2 separate regions of the Homo sapiens genome follow, and region 1 is linked to region 2. A link means that fine-mapping ties the variant in region 2 to the expression of a gene that starts in the linked region. Tissue or cell type: prefrontal cortex. Region 2 holds a variant in brackets; the other region holds the start of a gene. All regions are shown on one strand. Distances are between the middles of the regions.

The links. PIP is the estimated chance that this variant, and not a neighbour inherited with it, causes the effect.
Region 1: PXMP2 starts here. The variant in region 2 is fine-mapped to the expression of PXMP2 in prefrontal cortex (GTEx, PIP 0.96). The same link has a PIP of 0.9 or more in skeletal muscle.

Annotation. Positions count from the first base shown.
Region 1 is chr12:132,682,735-132,690,915 of GRCh38, reverse strand. It overlaps PXMP2 (peroxisomal membrane protein 2), which reads right to left and starts at 3,329. Exons shown (of 5, transcript NM_018663.3): 1 at 3,124-3,329; 2 at 540-653. The coding sequence starts at 3,245. It overlaps POLE (DNA polymerase epsilon, catalytic subunit), which reads left to right and starts at 3,574. Exons shown (of 49, transcript NM_006231.4): 1 at 3,574-3,662. The coding sequence starts at 3,601. RefSeq lists a silencer at 2,814-4,123.
Region 2 is chr12:132,631,579-132,639,744 of GRCh38, reverse strand. It overlaps POLE (DNA polymerase epsilon, catalytic subunit), which reads left to right. Exons shown (of 49, transcript NM_006231.4): 40 at 447-620; 41 at 1,606-1,731; 42 at 3,721-3,853; 43 at 5,367-5,559; 44 at 6,950-7,081; 45 at 7,237-7,430. Among named protein-coding and RNA genes, the nearest start is that of P2RX2, 17 kb to the right of the region's middle. The variant G/C (reference allele first, on the strand shown) is at 3,370.

The DNA of each region.
Region 1 (8,181 bases), 51 kb before region 2:
TGCCTCTCAGCCCAATTAAGACAGTCACCCCTACCCATCCAATTAAAAAGAAACATGATAAAACCACAAATGTGAGCCTGTACTCCTAGCACTGTAATCCCAGCACTTTGGGAGGCCAAGGAAGGTGGATCACTTGAGGTCAGGAGTTCAAGACCAGCCTGGCCAACATGGTGAAACCCCATCTCTACTAAAAATAACAAAAATTAGCTGGGCATGGCGGTGTGTGCCTGTAATCCCAGCTATTTGAGAGGCTGAGGCAGGAGAATCACTTGAACCAGAGAGGCAGAGGTTGCAGTAAGCCTGGGTGACAGAGTGAGACTCTGTCTCCAAAAAAAAAGAAAAAACAAAAAAAACCACGTATGCGTATATATGCCATACAAACTATATGAACCATTCGAGTTTTTTCCCATGATGATTACTACAATGGTTTTTAAAAAATTATATTTCCAAATAAGAGTACTCCAACTACTCGGTTTTGGTGCCCAGCTTGGTTGCACTCAGCGGCTACAAGGTAAACCCACCCCTTGTATGGCACTCACCCGTAAACGGCATATCTCAGAGGCCCACCGACATCCAGACTTCTAGAGTTTTCTTTTTTCCGCTTCTTCTCAATCATCTGGGCCAGGAAGTTCCCAAGTGCTGACAAAATGCCACTGTGGAGAGGGAGGTCATCAGAAAACAGCAGTGACCAGCAGGAGGGTGTCCCTTTCCCATAGGTGAATTAGCAGGGCCGTTCTGAGGCCATGCAGCAGATGGGCGGGGGGTAGGAATTCTTGTTAAAGCGGCTGCAATGTATAGTTCTTGTATCAAAAGGTGGAGACGGTGGACTTAAACACACAGGTAAGGACAAGTGGCTTTCCAGTATCTATGTCAACATCCTGGCTGTGATGTTATACTATAATTTGGCAGTTTGGGAGTTGGGAAGCTGTGTGGTTATGAACGGGCAACAGGACAGCCCTATCATGACGCTGTTCTGCATTTTGACTGTGGTAGTGAACACAAGAATGTACAGATGTGATAAAACTGTACAGAACAGATACAGCTACAAGAAAAATGGAGAAATCCGAATAGGATCTGTGGACTGTGTCCACGCAATGCCCTGGTCGATACTGCACTACGTTTCACAGAATGTAACCAATGGGGGACACTGGGAAGGTGTGCAAGGAATCTCTCCATGTTAGTCTTGTAACTGTTTGTGAATCTACAATTATCACAATAAAAATTTCCATAAAAAGGTGGAACAGGCCCAGTGGCTCCCTCCAGGCCTTGGTTTGTATTTGCCTTCTGAGAAGCTCTCTGGACTATAAAATCCAAAATTCCTAGCACGGACCTAGACACCTTCTCGATCAGATCCCTGGCGATTCCCTTCACATCTCCTGCCTCTTGCTCAGGGTTCACTTTCTCCACACACAGATCTTCCCTCCCTCGGGACTGAGTCCAAGCTGCACCTCTCTCCGCCTTTCTTTAACGCCGGCCTTCCCTTCAAAACCTAACAGAGACCTTTGCCCTGCTGTTCCCTGTGCCAGGAGAGCCTCTGCTCCACTTCTTTACACAGCCTGTTCAATGTCACCTTCTCAAAACACCTTCCCTGGCCGTGTCTCCACCCGCGCCGTGCGGACCCGCGCCCCGCAGACTCGCTCCCTTGGCCCTGTCTCCACACGCTCCATGTGGACCCGCTCCCCTGGCCCTGTCTTCACCCGCACCACGCAGACCCGCTCCCTTGGCCCTGTCTTTACCCGTGCCCCGCAGACCCGCTCCCCTCGCCCTGTCTTCACCCGCGCCCCGCAGACCCGCTCCCTTGGCCCTGTCTTCACCCGCGCCCCGCAGACCCGCTCCCTTGGCCCTGTCTCCACCCGCGCCATGAGGACCCGCTCCCCTGGCCCTGTCTTTACCCGCGCCCCCAAGACCCGCTCCCCTGGCGCTGTCTTCACCCGCGCCCCGCAGACTCGCTCCCTTGGCCCTGTCTCCACACGCTCCATGAGGACCCGCTCCCCTGGCCCTGTCTTCACCCGTGCCCCGCAGACCCGCTCCCCTGGCCCTGTCTTCACCCGCGCCCCCAAGACCCGCTCCCCTCGCCCTGTCTTCACCCGTGCCCCGCAGACCCGCTCCCCTGGCCCTGTCTTCACCCGCGCCCCCAAGACCCGCTCCCCTCGCCCTGTCTTCACCCGTGCCCCGCAGACCCGCTCCCCTGGCCCTGTCTTCACCCGCGCCCCCAAGACCCGCTCCCCTCGCCCTGTCTTCACCCGTGCCCCGCAGACCCGCTCCCCTGGCCCTGTCTTCACCCGCACCACGCAGACCCGCTCCCTTGGCCCTGTCTTTACCCGTGCCCCGCAGACCCGCTCCCCTCGCCCTGTCTTCACCCGCGCCCCGCAGACCCGCTCCCTTGGCCCTGTCTTCACCCGCGCCCCGCAGACCCGCTCCCTTGGCCCTGTCTCCACCCGCGCCATGAGGACCCGCTCCCCTGGCCCTGTCTTTACCCGCGCCCCCAAGACCCGCTCCCCTGGCGCTGTCTTCACCCGCGCCCCGCAGACTCGCTCCCTTGGCCCTGTCTCCACACGCTCCATGAGGACCCGCTCCCCTGGCCCTGTCTTCACCCGTGCCCCGCAGACCCGCTCCCCTGGCCCTGTCTTCACCCGCGCCCCGCAGACCCGCTCCCCTCGCCCTGTCTTCACCCGCGCCCCCAAGACCCGCTCCCCTCGCCCTGTCTTCACCCGCGCCCCGCAGACCCGCTCCCCTCGCCCTGTCTTCACCCGCGCCCCGCAGACCCGCTCCCCTCGCCCTGTCTTCACCCGCGCCTGCGGACCCGCTCCCCTTGCCGTGGCTTCCCCGGGCGCGCGGGGCCCCTGTTGGGTCCTTGGGTGGAACCTCAGCGCCGACCCCCGGGTCTGGGCGGGCCCTCCACGCGCTGGGAGGGCGGGATCCGCAAGGCGCCTCACAATCGCTGACTGCGGACGCGGGTGTCGCCGCGGGAAGTTCAGCGCCGGGTCGGAGGGCGCCCGCTCCGGGGGTTCTGACCCGGGCGCGCCCCCAGCCTGGTCCCGGCCCGGCGCTCCCGTCCAGGCCCCGCGCCGCTGCGGCCGACCTGGGGCCGGGGCGGCGTCCGATTCCCGCGCCCCCGCTCACCTGGTGGCCGCCTTGGTGAGCACCGGGTAGAGCCGCAGGAAGAGCAGGTACTGGGCGAGCGCCCGCCGCGGCAGCGCCCCGAGCCCGGCTTCGGCCCGCAGCCTGGACGCGGCCGGCGCCATCGCCTCCCCAGCGCCGTGCCGCCGGGGGCACCGACCCCACCTCAGGCTGGCCGGGCGCGGAGCCCGAGGCGCCGAGAGCGGAGTGGGGACCGCCTGACATTTCCGGCCCCACCGCGGCCCGCAGCGCCGCCCGGTCCCAACCCCACGGTGCGCCGCGCGCGCCTACCACACACTTTTCCCCGGTCCCTGCCGGCCACCTCCCCCGCCGGGCGCCGGCGCCAATTGGAGCGCCTCGGGGGGCGGGGGAGGGGCGGAGCGCGCCTCTTGATGGACGGCGGCATTTCCGGCTCTCGCGAGTCTGGGTGGGAGCGCGCCAAATTTCTCCCCTGAAGCAGAGGTGGTAGCCAACGGCTCCATGTCTCTGAGGAGCGGCGGGCGGCGGCGCGCGGACCCAGGCGCGGATGGCGAGGCCAGCAGGTGAGGGGCGCCCTCCTGAGGCTCTCGGGCCGGCCCTCCGGAGGGTGCCATGGGGCCGTCCTCGGCTGGCGCCGCCGAGGCGGGAGGGAGGCCCGGTTCCCGCAGCCGCCCGCACTCGCCGCGCCTGACTGGGGTAGGGCGGCGCGCCCCGACCGCCGACGGAGGGGCTCGGGGCGGGCGGAGGCGCTACGGGCGCGGCTTCTTTGCGGGGAAACGAGGCGGGCCGCGCGGCCTTTCCCTGCTCGGCTCTTTCTGAGGTTTTTCGGGCCTCGCCTTCCGCGCAGCTGCGTTTGGGACCTGCCGCGCGGCGGGGGCGATGAGAGCGGCGGGACCCGGGCCAGGCCCTGCGGGGTGGACGCGCGGCTGGGGAGGGTGCGGGGAGGGGCGGGGCCGGGGACCCTGCCTGGGGGCCTAGCGCTGGGGGAGGCCGAGGCGGGCGGATCGCTGGAGCCCAGGATCCTGTTCTAGATCAGCCTGGGCTACAGAGAGAGACCTCGTCTCCTCTGTTTTATTTTTTTGGGCAGGGAGTCCCGCTCTGTCGCCCAGGCTGGAGTGCAGTGGCGCGATCTCGGCTCACTGCAACCTCTGCTTCCCGGGTTCAAGCGATCCCGCTGCCTCAGCCTCCCGAGTAGCTGGAATTACAGGCGCCCGCCACCAGGCCCGGCTAGTTTTTGTATTTTTAGTAGAGACCGGGTTTCACCATGTTGGCCAGGCTGGTCTCGAACTCCTGACCTCAGGTGATCCGCCCGCCTCGGCCTTCCAAAGTGCTGGGATTACAGACGTGAGACTCCGCGCCCGGCCCTTCTCTTGTAAAAACAAGAAAAATTAGACAGGCTGGTGGTGCGCGCCCGAGGTCCCAGCTATTAATACTCCCGAATCCGAGCCGGAGGTTCACCTGAGCCCGGCAGGTCAAGGCTGCTGTGAGCCGGGATCGCGCCACCGCACTCCAGCCTGGGCGACGGAGCCAGACCCAGTCTCAAAAAAAATAGAGCAAGGATAAGACGCGGCTGCTTGGTGGCCAGAGCAAACGGTAAACATGACCGGAGGACTGGCCTGCCATAAGCAGAAAACGGATGAGGCCCGGCGCGGTGGCTCACACCTGTAATCCCAGCACTTTGGGAGGCCGAGGCAGGAGGATCACCTGAGGTCAGGAGTTCGAGACCAGCCTGACCAACATGGAGAAATCCCGTCTCCACTAAAAAAATACAAAATTAGCGGGGCGTGGTGGCGCATGCCTGTAATCCCAGCTACGCAGGAGGCTGAGGCAGGAGAATCACTTGAACGCGGCAGGCGGAGGTTGCGGTGAACCGAGATCGCGCCATTGCACTCCAGGCTGGGCAACAAAGAATGAAACTCTGTCTCAAAAAAAAAAAAATAGAAAAAACGTGTGAGAACGTGAAGCTTTTTACAGACACTTAGCTGAACAAAATTCTTCCCAGAGGAGAAACCAAGTGGTAAGGATCCCTAACTGCTGTTGTGCTCATCGCTGTCTGTCCATATCAGGCAAGCCCTAGAGAGGCAGGTACCCTTAGGGTCTACATGGTGTGTTGGAACTTGGAGCTTAGAGACGGTTACTGACTGCCCTGCTTCAGGACACAGGACTGCACTCACGTGCTCCACTCCACTGCCCTGCCCCAAGCTCAGTGATGGCCTCCAGGCAGGGGGAAGGCTGCTGCTGGGATAAGTACAAGTGATGGCTTTTACCTTACATGCTTTATGTGGGTTACCTCATCTCATCCTTAAAACAGTCCTGGGAGGTGAGTGTGCCCCAGGAGGCAGTGGGTGCTGTTTGCCTGCGTTTCTTCTTGTGTGAAATGGGGACACCAGTGGCCTCCCTCGTAGGGGTTGTCATGAAAACTGAATGAGAGCATATGTGGAGTACTGGGACGGTGTGATACAGTAACCAGTCAATGGTAGCTCTCTGTGAATGAGAGCCTGTGTGGAGTACTGGGACAGTGTGATACAGTAACCAGTCAATGGTAGCTCTCTGTGAATGAGAGCCTGTGTGTAGTACTGGGACGGTGTGATACAGTAACCAGTCAATGGTAGCTCTGTGAATGAAAGCCTGTGTGGAGTACTGGGACGGTGTGATATAGTAACCAGTCAATGGTAGCTCTCTGTGAATGAGAGCCTGTGTGGAGTACTGGGACGGTGTGATATAGTAACCAGTCAATGGTAGCTCTGTGAATGAGAGCCTGTGGAGTACTGGGATTGTGTGATACAGTAACCAGTCAATGGTAGCTCTCTGTGAATGAGAGCCTGTGTGGAGTACTGGGACGGTGTGATACAGTAACCAGTCAATGGTAGCTCTCTGTGAATGAGAGCCTGTGTGGAGTACTGGGACGGTGTGATATAGTAACCAGTCAATGGTAGCTCTCTGTGAATGAGAGCCTGTGTGGAGTACTGGGACGGTGTGATATAGTAACCAGTCAATGGTAGCTCTGTGAATGAGAGCCTGTGTGGAGTACTGGGACGGTGTGATACAGTAACCAGTCAATGGTAGCTCTCTGTGAATGAGAGCCTGTGTGGAGTACTGGGACGGTGTGATACAGTAACCAGTCAATGGTAGCTCTCTGTGAATGAGAGCCTGTGTGGAGTACTGGGACGGTGTGATACAGTAACCAGTCAATGGTAGCTCTCTGTGAATGAGAGCCTGTGTGGAGTACTGGGACGGTGTGATACAGTAACCAGTCAATGGTAGCTCTCTGTGAATGAGAGCCTGTGTGGAGTACTGGGACGGTGTGATATAGTAACCAGTCAATGGTAGCTCTGTGAATGAGAGCCTGTGTGGAGTACTGGGACGGTGTGATATAGTAACCAGTCAATGGTAGCTCTGTGAATGAGAGCCTGTGTGGAGTACTGGGACGGTGTGATACAGTAACCAGTCAATGGTAGCTCTCTGTGAATGAGAGCCTGTGTGGAGTACTGGGACGGTGTGATATAGTAACCAGTCAATGGTAGCTCTGTGAATGAGAGCCTGTGTGGAGTACTGGGACGGTGTGATACAGTAACCAGTCAATGGTAGCTCTCTGTGAATGAGAGCCTGTGTGGAGTACTGGGACGGTGTGATACAGTAACCAGTCAATGGTAGCTCTCTGTGAATGAGAGCCTGTGTGGAGTACTGGGACGGTGTGATACAGTAACCAGTCAGTGGTAGCTCTCTGTGAATGAGAGCCTGTGTGGAGTACTGGGACGGTGTGATACAGTAACCAGTCAATGGTAGCTCTCTGTGAATGAGAGCCTGTGTGGAGTACTGGGACGGTGTGATATAGTAACCAGTCAATGGTAGCTCTCTGTGAATGAGAGCCTGTGTGGAGTACTGGGACGGTGTGATATAGTAACCAGTCGATGGTAGCTCCCTGTGTGACACTTATCCCCATTTTTCAGATTTCTTACTGTCCCTGGATTAAAAGTGAGATACACAGCTCAGAGAAAGCAGTTTTGGGAGGAAATATGGTCCCAGTGAGCAGTTTTCTAGTCTACTTAATCCAACTTACTTGAGGCAAGGATATTTGGAGGACTGGCATAGAGGGCCGTGCGCCCCTGTTAAGAGGTGATGCCTCGTAAATAGCACTTCATTCACTCTTGATTTTGATAAAGATCTGGGACTCAGAACTGAGGCTGTTCTCTAGCAAGATTTGGAATATAGTTTTTCTGTGTTTTTGATTACGGGTGCATTCAACTATTTAAAAGATTAAACCTTTATTATACAGTATGGTGGTGTATCAGTTTCCTATTGCTGCAGTAACACATGATCACTTAGTGACTATATAAATTTATTCTCTTACGGTTTTAGAAGTCAGAAGTCGTAATATGAAAGTGTCTGGTTGGTTATATTTATTGTGATGGTTCCCGGGGGAGAATCTGTTTCCTTGCTGCTTCTTCATCTTCAGAACCAAGGGTTGCATCTCCTCTCCCCCCTACCCTCTCTCTCCCATCCCTTTCTCCTTCCTGACTCTAGCTCTCCTGCCTCACTCTACAAGGATTCTTGTGATTACACTGCGCCCACCCAGCTAAGCAGAATCTCAAGGCCCTTAATTTAGTCAGATCTGCAAAGACCCTTTTGTCTTGTAAGATAACATTCACAGGTTTGGGGGATTAGGATGTGGGTCTTTCATGGGGGGTGTCATCCTGCCTGCCTACCACAAGTGGTTATAATCTTTCATGAGAAGTAAGGATCCTAGTCTTGGAATATGGTCATTCTGCTCTTGAGTTGAAGGTGATCCAAGGAATACCTTCAGACAAAGGAAGGGTCTTCCTTTCTTTTTTTATCTTGTTCTTTTTTTATTTTATTTTTTTTTTAGACGGAGTCTCGCTCTGTCGCCCAGGCTGGAGTGCAGTGGCATGATCCCAGCTCACTGCAAGCTCTGCCTCCTGGATTCACGCCATTCTCCTGCCTCAGCCTCCCGAGTAGCTGGGACTACAGGCGCCCGCCACCACGCCCGGCTAATTTTTCGTATTTTTAGTAGAGACGGGGTTTCACCATGTTAGCCAGGATGGTCTCAAACTCCTGGCCTCA
Region 2 (8,166 bases):
CTTGACCTCAGGTGATCCACCTGCCTCGGCCTCCCAAAGTGGTGGGATTACAGGCGTGAGCCTCTGCATCCGGCCTAGTGTGGTGTTCTGATGTCTAGGCAGTGGCTTTGCTGTGTCCTTCCTGTCAGGGTCCCCGGCCCGTCACACACTTGCTGCTTTGTACTGTGCTGCCCTCCCGTCCTGCTTTAGAACACACAGAGTTTGGGATGCGGTGAAGCCTGAACAAGTTTAAGGAATGAAATGGGAAGAAACAGATGAGGCATGAGGGTGAAGGGATGAAATTTGGACCGTGACTTAAGGTGGGGACAGTGAGAAGGGGAGGCGACAGTGACGGATTTGGACCCAGCCGTGTAGGGAAAACCTGTGCCCATTTCAGTTGGAGCGTCCCGCGTGGCAGCAGCGTGGGAGGCTGAGGGTACGAGGGTGTCGTGCACCTTCTCTTTCAGGATCCTGAAGAGCATGGTCGTGGGCTGGGTGAAGGAGATCACCCAGTACCACAACATCTATGCAGACAACCAGGTGATGCACTTCTACCGCTGGCTTCGGTCGCCATCCTCTCTGCTTCATGACCCTGCCCTGCACCGCACACTCCACAACATGATGAAGAAGCTCTTCCTGCAGTGAGTGCTCCTCCTCCCTGGGCTGTCCACCGCGTCCTCAGCTGGGCTGGTCCCTTACTCCCCAGAACCAGAGACATGGCCAGCCAGTGCCTCTGGGATAAGTAGTGTATTTCTGAGTTTGTGGAGCATAACAATCCAAAGGATCCCAGAGAAACACGCAGCTGCTGCTGCAGCGTCGCCTGCACATCCTGCAGAGAACACTAGGTGGCACCTCCTCTCCTGCCCCTTTCCTGCACAAAGTCATGCTACACATTGTATTGCTGTGTGCCTTGTTGTTTTAGTGAAAATATGCCTGTGTCAGGAGATCTGTGTGAGGACATGCCATATGAAAGAACATTTAGCCTCTCTCCAGCCTTGTGCCGTTGTTACAAATAGCAAATCAGTGAGAGGCTTCATGCATGAGCTCATGCAGATAGATCCGTGGGGTAATTGCTGGGGCGTAGCCCTCTTGCAGGCCTCAGAGGTGTTGTAACTCGGGATGAATCCTGATTTGATGGACTTCACCAGAGCGGCCCCACAGAGGCCCCTTGTGGACACTTCTTCCCTGGCCGCGCCTCACCAACATGGCCGGGGATTATTACCCAACTGCTGGGATAAAAGTGCTTCTTGGTGCAGTCTTAACTTAGGATTCTTACAATGAATGAAGTCGAATTTTCTCTTCTAGTCCTTTGTCTATTTTTCTGTAGTTTTGGTGGTTCTTCTCTTATTAAATATCGAATGAGTTGTCTCCATACAAAAAGTTGCCATTTTTCTGTGATAAGAATTTGCTAATTTTTTCCTGTTTTTGGTTATCTTTTGCCTTTGTTTGTGGTGGATTTTTGCCATGCAGAAATCTTTGCTCTTCATTAGCTTCTGGGTTCTAGTGTATCTCGGAGGCTTTTCTGCTTCAGGACCCTCAGCTCTTTTCCCTCTTGGATTTTCTGGGTGCCCTCTGGCTCTCCATGACTGTGGCGTCTCCACCACGGACTCTCAACTTGCTCCACAGGCTCATCGCTGAGTTCAAGCGCCTGGGGTCATCAGTCATCTACGCCAACTTCAACCGCATCATCCTCTGTACAAAGAAGCGCCGTGTGGAAGATGCCATCGCTTACGTGGAGTACATCACCAGCAGGTGCGGCTGGCTGGTCCTGGTGACGCAGCACTGTGGCTTTGAGAGGGATGCTAAAATGACCCCCTGAGGTGCCAGCTCTCCTCCTGGGTGGGCTGGGAGGTCGTTAGAAGTGCAGGACTCACCATGGTGAATCTGAGCAGCGTGAAAAGGGGGTTACCGCCACCTGTGCGCGGTAGCAGATCGGAGGCCACTCAGCTGTGCAGCTTGAGTTGGGCAAGTTCAGGAAGTGGCCTGCCTTTGCTAAGAAGGTTCCACAGTGATTTTTGTTTGTTTGCTTTTTTTCCCCATGGATATTCAGGGCACAGATTCAAGGTGCCCTGAATATATGCACCCCGTAAGTGTTGACGTTGTAAGCCTTTTCATAGACGTCAGTGTTGGCGAGTGGAGTGGTGTGGTTCCCGGGTGCTCAGGTGTGCACAGCTCTCAGCTGTCAGAGCCTGGTGTGGTTTTGACTTCCTGCCTTCCAGGCCATGTTCCTGAGGTTCCCTCCTAGGCCTTGCTGTGCTTCTCACACACTCAGCACTATTTAAATCTAAATAGAAGACAAAGCAACAGAAAAATCTCCACCAGCAACTTTTGTTCAACTGATAGTAGGAAGCTCCCTCCTAGGTGCGCTCACCCTGGGGATGAATGCAGCCCTTTCTGAGCACAGAGGGGAGTTGCTTGTGGAGGCACAGAGAGTCTGCATGGGTCTGATCTTTGCATGGTTACAGGGGTAGCATCTGGGGGCGCTGCAGAAAAGGCTGACACTAAATTGATAATAGGCCTTATCACTGAGAAGTAGGAAGGTAGAGCTTATAAGACTTTCATTCCTAATCAAACCATATGCACTGGATTAATTTGAAACACAAAAGCACTGTTGTCCTCCTGCAGACCCACTGTGGCCCCTTATGTCTATCCAAGATGAGCCTTGATGGTCAGTGGTCACGCTGTGTGCCTGGGAAAGCTGGCTTGGGCTAGAATTGTATTTCGGAGCATGGCTGAGATAATGGGAAGGATGTGCCTCTCCCCACGTTGGCCATGGGCAGCTCCAGGGGTGCCCTGTACCTGAGGAGGCCGGGGTTGCTCATGTCGAGAAACAGGCTGCTATTCTTCCTTAGCGCGAAGAGCAGAGTTAGGGAGAACATAAAGTTCTCCTGCAGGAGCTGCGATGTGGGCTACTCAGCTGCATTTTGAAACTGTGATTTAGGATGTTCCTCCTTCCTTCCTCTCTTTCTTTGTTTATTCTTCCATTTTTTGGGGTTTTGTTTGTTTTTTAGGAGATGGGGTCTTGCTCTGTCACCCAGGCTGGAGTGCAGTGGTGCAGTCATGGCTCACTGCGGCCTCAAACTCTGGGCTCAAGCTATCTGCCCACCTCAGCCCACTGAGTAGATGGGACTAGAGGTGCATGCCAGCATGCCCAGCCAATTTTTGTATTTTTTGTAGAGACAGGGTTTTGCCACGTTGCCTGGGGTGGTCTTGAACTCCTGAACTCAGGCGATCCTCCTGCCTCAGCCTCCCAAAGTGCTAGGATTACAGGCGTGAGCCACCGTGCCTGGCCTGTTCTTTTTTTTTTTTTTTTTTTTTTTTTTTCCTTAAATGGATCTAATGTGCAGAGGATTGGGTCAGCGCTAGGGAGGCTTAACCGAGGAGTGACAA[G/C]GATGACGATAGCTTAAAAGAGCTTGGCAGTGGGAAGCACTGTGGTTGGTTACCAGCAGGTGCAGGTCACCTAAGGCCGCAGAGCAGAGGCAGAACACCCTGTGGGCCATCCCCAGCACGAGGAGGCACCCAGCTCTCTTTGTGGCGCCAGCTCCCAGGGGCCTGGTGGGCCTCCTTAGTTTTACGTTTACCACATTTCCCCAGGAAGCCTGAGGGATGATGTGGTCTGAATGAACTTTCAAATTCAGTGTTAAGTAAGTGGAGGGTACAGATAGATACAAGGGGAAATAAAGGAAAGTTGAGAACAAGGTCGATTTCACTGAAGCAGCGTCTTCAATGCTTCCTCTGCAGCATCCATTCAAAGGAGACCTTCCATTCTCTGACAATTTCTTTCTCTCGATGCTGGGAATTTCTTCTCTGGATGGATCCATCTAACTATGGCGGAATCAAAGGAAAAGTTTCATCTCGTATTCACTGTGGACTGGTAAGCGAGCTGCAGTGTGGCACCCGAGCCAGCTTTGGGGGTCGCGTTCATTCCTGCAGCAAGTGCTGAGTGCTCAGGGCCCCGGCGGGCCTGGCCGTGAGCAGCAGACACTGCACCCGCATCCTGCCCTCATGAACACGGGGAGGGACCATGCGCAGACAAGCACGTCAGTGTGGAGTGTGGCGTCAGCCCTGGTGATGGCAAGGCTTGCCGTGGGCAACAGGGAGGTGGAGGCCCATGAGGTGGTGACAGGGAATCCGAGAGCTGATGAAGTGCACCATAGTTGTGCGAGCATAAGGCGCCTCCAGCGGATGGACACCAGGGAGGCAAAGCACAAGTCAGTGGAGCAGTGGTTGCAGATGCAGGCAGAGAGCTGACAGAGCCAGGCAACTTGGGCATGGCAGGGCAGGGCCTCGGCTTTCGTGGGGATGGGAGCTTCTGTGTGGGTGATGTTGGAGCTTTCTTGGCCCCATGTGGATAACCCACCATTGGAGGGCACAGGCAGGTAAAGCCGGTTAGTGCCTGTGTCAGGGAGATGCTGGGCAGCGAGGTTGGTGAGAAGGGCCTGGGTGGGCTTTGAAGTGGAGCCAAGGGGCCAGCGGATCGGATGTGTGTAAATGCCCAGGTGCGGGCCAGGCTGTGGGTGAGTGGAGGTGGCTGTCGGGAGCAGTCTGGGGAAGGGGTCACGTCTGGCTGGGGCTCATGGTGTTTGCAAGGTTGAGACGTGGGTGGTCAGCTGGTGCAGGAGTGGCCAGAGAGTGGCTGGGTGGGTTGAGAGGAGGCCTGTGTCCTCCACAGGGGCCCTCATAGTGGACTGAGAGGAAGCTGTGGGTACCAGAGCCAGGGGCTCAGATGTCAGAGGGAAAGCCCTTTGTAAGGACGCAGACGCTTCTGGGAGCTGGCAGGATGAAGCCAAGACTGCCCAGGACACCTGGATGGGAGCGATTCTGGTTGGAGTTGGGGGATAAACCCTGATTGAAGGGATTCAGAACAAAGTGGGAGGGTAGAAACTCAGGCAGTGTAGACCGCTCTGAGGAGGGGATCAGCGTGTGGTCAGGGCAGGTGGCAGTGGGTGTCGGTGTCTACACAGACGTGGATGGTGCCGTGGCACGAACACAGGCTGCGCGGGAGGCTGGGTCTGTGATGGGGTCGTGCCGTCCCAGGAGATTCATGGACTCAGAGGAGAGAACAGTCACCGGGAAGCTCTGGCTGGTTCTTTCGTCCTTGGGGGGTGGGAGTTCAACAATTAAAGTGAACTCTGGAAGAGCAGAGTGAAGCTCACAGTCCCAGGTCACGAGCACTTCTGTGTGCCAGGCGCTTCCCACAAAGCACTTTGTACTGGGAGCCACCCTGGGGGATTCACGCAGGCTCCAGGGGATGCCTTGACTGCGAGGAAGGCCTCTGGTCAAACGGGGCAGATGGACCCAGGTTGGAGGAGCCTTCGCTGTGGCATCCTACCCCTCTACCAGGCCGCGATGGTGCAAACACAGCCGCGTTGTCTCATGTGTTACAGCAAGACTCCCAGAAAGCAGGGGGAGCAGAGGATGAGCAGGAAAATGAGGACGATGAGGAGGAAAGAGATGGGGAGGAGGAGGAAGAGGCGGAGGAATCCAACGTGGAGGATTTACTGGAAAACAACTGGAACATTTTGCAGTTTTTGCCACAGGCAGCCTCCTGCCAGAACTACTTCCTCATGATTGTTTCAGGTAAGCCCAGAGCCCAGGGCTGCGCAGCCCCCACTGAAGGGACTCATGGTTAGTAGATGTGGCTCCTGTGCCATGGTATCGCAAGAAGGGAGACAGGGAAAATCAGATCGGGCGGAGCCTGCCCAGCAGTTGGGACTTTGTGAGCCGAGGGGCCTCCTCTCCAGGCTCCAGGCATGTTCCACTGGAGGGCCCGGAGAGGGGTGACTGTCTTCCCTCCAGCCTTTGCTCTCAGGAAACTCCATGGGGAGCGGCTGCCCCTGGCCGTGTCATTGAGGAGTTTCCTAGCTCTGCTCCCGCCATCTGATTCGGTAACTCAGTCACATACATTCCCAGGGAACATTTGTGTGTGTGCACGTTCAGTAGCTGAAGATAAAGCCCTGGGTCAGGTCAGCTGCCCCCTGGCTGGTCTGTGAGGCCTAACTTTCTGGTGGGGGAGTTCCTATGCCTTGGTTTGGGTCTGCAGGCTTAGAGTTTGCAAATCAAGCTATGCAGGTTAGTGTGCAGATGAAGTGTATCGAGGAAGCACTGTTTGTAGTTGACAGCCCTAAGTTAAAGAATGCCCTAAGTAAAAACAGCAGGTTGTGATGTGCACACACAGGTGGATGCGGTCACAGAGGCCTTCGTTGATGATCATTTTATATTTTTGTCTACTTGTCCTTGAGTCTTTAACTTTCTCAGTTCTCTCTTGCAACTTTCTATGTCTCTTTTGAAAAGTTCCGGGTTGGCCGGGCGCAGTGGCTCATGCCTGTAATCCCAGCACTTTAGGGGGCTGAGGCGGGTGGATCACGTGAGGTCAAGAGTTTGAGACCAGCCTGGCCAACATGGTGAAACCCCATCTCTACTAAAAATACAAAAAGTAGCCAGGTGTGGTGCGCACACCTTTAATACCAGCTACTCAGGAAGCTGAGGCAGGAGAATCACTTGAACCCAGGAGGCGGAGGTTGCAGTGAGCTGAGATTGCGCCATTGCACTACAGTCTGGGCAACAAGAATGAAACTGTGTCTCAAAAAAAAAAAAAAAAAAGGGTAAGTGCCAGGTGACAGGCCCGGAGTAGTTTTTGGAGAAGCTTGCTGATGCCAGGGGCCCTGCCTTTGCTTGTGTTGGGAGCTGTCTTTCACGCGCTACCCAGTGAGAGGCTTAGTGTACATGGCCCCATTTATACAGTTTTCTCTCTGACAATGAACTCAGGTGTCAGCGAGTGTTCCTTCTCATTTCCACTTCTCACTTCTCTAATTTACTTTTAGCTCATCTAAAGGCTGCAGATAAAATTATTAACAATGACATTTTAGCCTCATCTGTGAGGCAATCTGACCAGCCATGGGTCCCCTCAGATTCTAGGGTGTTTGCAGCAGCCCGACTCAGGGCCTGTGGTGTGTGTGCCTCTCCACAGCGTACATCGTGGCCGTGTACCACTGCATGAAGGACGGGCTGAGGCGCAGTGCTCCAGGGAGCACCCCCGTGAGGAGGAGGGGGGCCAGCCAGCTCTCCCAGGAGGCCGAGGGGGCGGTCGGAGCCCTTCCCGGTGAGCAGTCTTTTGTCTTTTGAGGCCACTGCCATGTGCCAGTGACCTAACTCCTCTGTGTGCCATGGGTGGTCCCCGGTGCCAGTCCCCCAGGTGGGAGGTCCCCAGTGCCAGACAGGTCCCAGACCCCTCCCTCAGCATCCTTATACTTCCAGGAATGATCACCTTCTCTCAGGATTATGTCGCAAATGAGCTCACTCAGAGCTTCTTCACCATCACTCAGAAGATTCAGAAGAAAGTCACAGGCTCTCGGAACTCCACTGAGCTCTCAGAGATGTTTCCTGTCCTCCCCGGTTCCCACTTGCTGCTCAATAACCCTGCCCTGGAGTTCATCAAATACGTGTGCAAGGTGAGAGTGCCAGCGTGCGTGTGAGGAGAGGACACTAACGTACATGTGTAAGGCGAGAATGTTACTGTGTGCAAGGTGAGGCTGTAATGCGTGCACCATGAACGTGCTAGCGTATGTGTGCAAGATAAGGACACCGACATACCTGTGCATGGTAAGGATGTTAATGAATGCAGGATGAGGCTTTCAGCTGTGCAAGGGGGAGGTACCTACATGTGTAGGGTCAGGGTGCCAGCGTGTGCAAGGTGAGGAGCAGGTGTAAGTTACTTGTTCATTCCACCAACATTTATCATGTCCCTGTCACATGCAGCCACAGTTGCGGCATCTGTGCTCAGGTGTGAGCAAGACAGGAAAGGTCCTGCCTTGTGGGGCCTGTCTGCTGCCAGCCGACCCGAGAAGGGAGAGGGCCGTTCAGAGGCGCAGGTGCTGTGGGGATGGAGCCTGTGAGGGGCGCTGGGACCAGGTGCAGGAGGAGGGAAGACGCAAAGGCCCTGGGGGGTGAGCTTGGTGTGTTGGTGAAGGCACAGCCGAACACCCAGTGCCACCGGCTGGGAGGATGGGTCACCGGAGACCAGTAGGCTGGACCAGGACCCAGAGCTGATGAGATGAGAGCTTGCTCGGATGCTGAGGCCTTTCTGGGAAAGGCAGGCTGAGTCCAAGGAGGGATAATATTACCAGATAACGACCGCGGGTGTCAGCCCTTACAGAGCAGAGTGCTTCACTGTCCATTTCCTCACTC